Regions from separate parts of the Homo sapiens genome. Here region 2 is linked to region 1. Evidence: fine-mapped expression QTL. Tissue or cell type: whole blood. Region 1 holds a variant in brackets; the other region holds the start of a gene. All regions are shown on one strand. Distances are between the middles of the regions.

Region 1 (2,758 bases):
CTAGTGCAAATTTATAAACATCAATCACATGAGGACTATGGCATAAGTTTAAAGCCAGTGAATTAAGTTAATGGCTAGATTATGTGAAAATCAGGCTAGGATGCTTTTAGGCTACAAGTTTGTCACTGAGATTGAACCAATTAAAATAAAATCTTACCTTTAAACAAGTCTGTTGACTAAGTATGTAAATTGGAGCTTGGAGGCTTAAATGTAGAGAATTCATTTACTAATATTTCAAGGTCATGCCCAAAATAATGGTAATGTTGCTCTTTTAATTTTGTCTTTGATGTCAGTTCTCACTTACATAAAAATATTTTTAGGTAGGCCAGAACTAGAGGTCTAATGACTGTCTACCTTTGATGAGTTTCCTCTTCCTTTTCTTTTATTCTAAATTCAGGCAAAAAAATCATTTTTTCAACATATTTTAATTTCTCAAGTACCAGTTTTCTTGAATTGTTTGAAGCAATCTAAGAGTAAATGAATGAACCCAGTAAAATACAAGAAGTACAAAAATAAGTTACTTCAGTCAAGGTACTTTGTCTTTCTGGGCCTTGATTCAAACAGTGATAAAAAGAAGAGATTGGATTAGATGATACCCAAGTTTCATTCTCTCTTTTTTTTCTTTTCTTTTCTTTCTTTTTTTTTTTTTTTTTTTGAGACGGAGTCCCGCTGTTTAGCCCAGGCCGGATTGCAGTGGCGCAATCTCGGCTCACTGCAAGCTCCGCCTCCCAGGTTCACGCCATTCTCCTGCCTCAGCCTCCCGAGTAGCTGGGACTACAGGCGCCCGCCACCGCGCCCGGCTAATTTTTTGTATTTTTAGTAGAGACGGGGTTTCACCGTGTTAGCCAAAATGGTCTCGAACTCCTGACCTTGTGATCCGCCCGCCTCGGCCTCCCAAAGTGCTGGGATTACAGGCGTGAGCCACCGTGCCCAGCCTTTTTTTTTTTTTTACCTAGTCACTTTTTTTTTTCCAAACACACTTCTTTTTTTAATTTTTTTATTTTTTTTTTTAAGTTTTGGGATACACATGCAGAACATGCGGGTTTGTTACATAGGTATAGATGTGCCATAGTGGTTTGCTGCACCTATCAACCCATTATCTAGGTTTTAAGCCCCACATGCATTATGTATTTGTCCTAATGTTCTCCCTCCCCTTACTCCCAACCCCCGACAGGCCCTGGTGTGTGTTGTTCCCCTCCCTGTGTCCATATGTTCTCATTGTTCAGCTCCCACTTATGAGTGAGAACATGCGGTGTTTGGTTTTC[C/T]ATTCCTGTGGTTTTCTTTTTTTTTTTTTTTAATACTGTAAGTTCTAGGGTACACGTACACAACGTGCAGGTTTGTTACATATGTATAAATGTGCCATGTTGGTGTGCTGCACCCATTAACTCGTCATTTACATTAGGTGTATCTCCTAATGCTATCCCTCCACCCTCACCCCACCCCATGACAGGCCCCAGTGTATGATGTTCCCCTTCCTGTGTCCAAGTGTTCTCATTGTTCAATTCCCACCTATGAGTGAGAACATGCAGTGTTTGGTTTTCTGTCCTTGCAATAGTTTGCTGAGAATGATGGTTTCCAGCTGCATCCATGTCCCTACAAAGGACATGAACTCATCCTTTGTTATGGCTGCATAGTATTCCATGGTGTATATGTGCCACATTTTCTTAATCCAGTCTATCATTGATGGACATTTGGGTTGGTTCCAAGTCTTTGCTATTGTGAATAGTGCTGCAAAAAACATACGTGTGCACTTGTTTTTATAGCAGCATGATTTATAATCCCTTGGGTATATACCCAGTAACGGGATGGCTGGGTCAAATGGTATTTCTGGTTCTAGATCCTTGAGGTATTGTCACACTGACTTCCACAATGGTTGAACTAGTTTACAGTCCCACCAACAGTGTAAAAGTGTTCCTATTTCTCCACATCCTCTCCAGCACCTGTTGTTTCCTGACTTTTTAATGATCGCCATTCGAACTGCTGTGAGATGGTATCTCACTGTGGTTTTGATTTGCGTTTCTCTGATGACCAGTGATGATGAGCCTTTTTTCATGTGTCTGTTGGCTGCATAAATGTCTTCTTTTGAGAAGTGTTTGAGTTCTTTGTAGATTCTGGATATTATATCTGGATATAAAAACTGGAGCAGTTTTGAGTGAGTTTCTTAATCCTGAGTTCTAGTTTGATTGCACTGTGGTCTGAAAGACAGTTTGTTATAATTTCTGTTCTTTTACATTTGCTGAGGAGTGCTTTACTTCCAACTATGTGGTCAATTTTGGAGTAAGTGTGATGCGGTGCTGAGAAGAATGTATATTCTGTTGATTTGGGGTGGAGAGTTCTGTAGATGTCTATCAGGTCTGCTTGGTGCAGAGCTGAGTTCAATTCCTGGATATCCTTTTTAACTTTCTGTCTCATTGATTTGTCTAATGTGGACAATGGGGTGTTAAAGTCTCCTATTATTATTGTGTGGGAGTCTAAGTCTCTTTGTAAGTCTCTAAGGACTTGCTTTATGAATCTGGGTGCTCTTGTATTGGGTGCATATATATTTAGGATAGTTAGCTCTTCTTGTTGAATTGATCCCTTTACCATTATGTAATGGCCTTCTTTGTCTCTTTTGATCTTTGTTGGTTTAAAGTCTGTTTTATCAGAGACTAGGATTGCAACCCCTGCCTTGTTTTGTTTTCCATTTGCTTGGTAGATCTTCCTCCATCCCTTTATTTTGAGCCTATGTGTGTCTCTGCACGTGAGATGGGTCTCCTGA
Region 2 (2,758 bases), 69 kb before region 1:
TGCTGAATCCCTTTACTCAAGGCTTTTACACAGGGTTAAATTTGGGTGGTGGTTTTATTTTTTTTTTAACCACCATATATACATCTTGGTTGTACTTATTTATTACTGTGCAACCACCTCTGCTCCCTTTCTAGAATTTAGTGCAATAGAAAAGGCATTACCTTTAACCTAACATTTGGGACTTTGAACTAAACTTTTGCACATGTTTTAAGAGCCCATTATCTCTTAAGTTGGACTCTTCCTAAATCTCTGCCGCCAAACCTACTTTATTGAAATCCTTTGAAACCCAAGTCTTTCCACATTTTGGCTCTCTCTGAAGTTTCTTTCTTTCTTTCTCTTTCTTTCTTTCTTTCCTTTTCTTAACCCTATATTATAGTGTCTGGTAATAACAACATATATAGACACCACACTATGTGTCTGGTAATAATATAGAGACCACACTATGTGCACTATGTACAATTATAATCCTTATTTTTATACAGGATAGAACTGAGGCAAGAAAGAGTAAATAACTTGCTCAAGGTCACATAGAAGGTAATTGAACAGAGAATCTACCCCAAAGCTGTGAGCTTAATTACTCTCAAGCTCCGGGGTCAAAGAGATCTGGTGTCCATTCTTATCACGTCTCCCTTTTTGCGGGGATGGTGCCTGTTAATTTATTCAGCTTCTTCGACGCGGTTTCCCTTTCAATAAGATTGAGATAAAGCATTTTTCGAAAGATCTAGATTGAGATAAAGCATTCTTTGAAAGATCTAGCAGTAAATGAGAGCTGCGTGAGGGATCCGATTCAGTCCCTAGCTCTGGATAACTGTCAGTGCTTCTACGCACCCCACCTTAAGCCCCTCGCAGGCAGGACTGGGTCCTGCTCCTCTAAATACTCCCATCTCATAGTGGGGGCGCAATAACGTCCGTTTAAGACGAATCGTCCAAGGGACTTCTATGCATCCAGCTGGCACACTGGCCGGAGTCTCACTTTATCCCCACATCTCTCCGCGCCCTGGACCTAGGCTTGCCACACTCTGCCATCCGCTGCTTTTCCAGCCCGGCTCCTCTCTCAGTCCGGGACTACTATCCCGGGCGCGGGCTCGGGTCTTACCATGGCATCGTAGCGCAGGGCGTTCATGAAGTGCGCCACCTCGGCGCCCTTGTACACGGTGAACCAGATAGTGCCCTGGTACTGGTCGCCGGCGTCCAGCAGCAGCACGTTGGGTTCGGCGCGGCGGATCTGCTGAACCTTGGTGAAGAGCCGAGCCACGCCACCCATGCAGCGGCTGGCGTTGACGCACTTGCTGGAGTCCTCGCTGGTCTGCTCCAGCCGGCTGTGCACGTCGTTGGTGTGCAAAATCGTAAGCTCCCAGGCGCCAGCCGCAGGCCACAGCACCGCGCCCAGGGCGAGGAGTAGCGTCGCGGGCGCCCGCGCGGCTCGGGGACACATAGCTGTGGCGCGTGAACTGGGTGCGAAAGCGGGCGAGCCGGGCGAGTGCCGGCGAGTAGGGGCGAGCAGCTAGGGCCGGGGCTCGGTGCCCCGGCTGGAGGGGCGGGGCCCGGGTCAAGGCCGGGGCGGGTCCTTCTTCAGCCTGGAGGCCGGCTTGGCGGCCAGGCGCAAGTTCGCGACGTCACCCGATCCGACCCTGGTACCCGGAGCGGCCCTGGCGCGGCTGTCGGCTGGCACCAGCTCCCTGCAGGAAGAGTGGAGAGGTTGTTCCCGGCGGGGAGCGGGTACCGGCCGCATCCCGGCCGGACCAGGGAGCCTGGGCGCCGGCAGTTCGGCTGCTGGTGCGCCGCTCTTTCGGGGGCGCGAGGAAGGAATTGGAGGGGTCCGCCCCGCGCCTGGGTCCTCTCTGAGTCTCGCCTCATTCGAGGCACGGGTTTTTCTACAAAAGGAATGTATGGTTTGTGGTTGCGCTAGCTCATCACTTCAAAGAACCAAAGAAGGAAAAGAGAGGGGGCGGGAAGAAAGATGAGCGAGCTGAGGGGCAGAGAGGAGGAGTAAAGAGAGGCCGGGCAGAGGAGCTCCTTGCAGTTTCGGGCTGTGAGAGCCGAAGCTCACTGAGATGTGACGCTTCCTGTTGGGTTGAGAACGCACGAAGTCTACGATGCTTAGACAAAAAAATCTCAGAAACTAAGAAATCATTCGAATCCAGTTCCTTGTTTATTCACAATTAAAACCTTAGTGATAAAACAGAGGCGACGCGCGGACAGCTCCTGGAAGCAGAAACACGATTGGGGTAAAATCCGGCAGCTATCAGGACGGGAAGGGATGCTGCCCTTCTTTGCTTTTCTGGTCTTATTTTATTTTATTTTATTTTTATTTTGTCGCGTGTGCTTTCGGTGTCGCAGTGAAGTCATAGCCAAATACAATGTTAGGAAGATTTTCCTCTATGTTTTCTCCTAAGAGTTTTATAATTTAAACTCTTAGACCTTTAATCCATTTTGAGTTAATTTTCATATGTGGTATGAGTCCACATTTACTCTTTTTCATGTGGATATCCAGTTTTCTTAGTACCATTTGTTGAAAAGACATTCTGTGCCCGTTTTTAAGACATTGACCTGAGGTTCGGAGATTGTAAATCATTTGCCAAGAAAGGCCATGCAGTTTGGGAGCAGCAGTGCCTGGGGCTACAGAAGACCCTTGCTTCTGGGACACCCTCTAATGTCATGCTTTGCAAGGTTTTGCTCTGTCCCTCTTTGAGCACCTGCTAGAAGCAGGTAAAAGAACTGGTAGTTTTGCTGTTTTAACTTAAAAAAAGAATGATTT

Evidence for each region. PIP is the estimated chance that this variant, and not a neighbour inherited with it, causes the effect.
Region 2: it holds the start of NT5E, and the variant in region 1 is fine-mapped to the expression of NT5E in whole blood (INTERVAL, PIP 0.92).

Annotation. Positions count from the first base shown.
Region 1 is chr6:85,379,429-85,382,186 of GRCh38, reverse strand. No RefSeq gene overlaps it. Among named protein-coding and RNA genes, the nearest start is that of LINC02535, 24 kb to the left of the region's middle. The variant C/T (reference allele first, on the strand shown) is at 1,266.
Region 2 is chr6:85,448,817-85,451,574 of GRCh38, reverse strand. It overlaps NT5E (5'-nucleotidase ecto), which reads right to left and starts at 1,492. Exons shown (of 9, transcript NM_002526.4): 1 at 1,097-1,492. The coding sequence starts at 1,435. RefSeq lists a silencer at 1,430-1,699.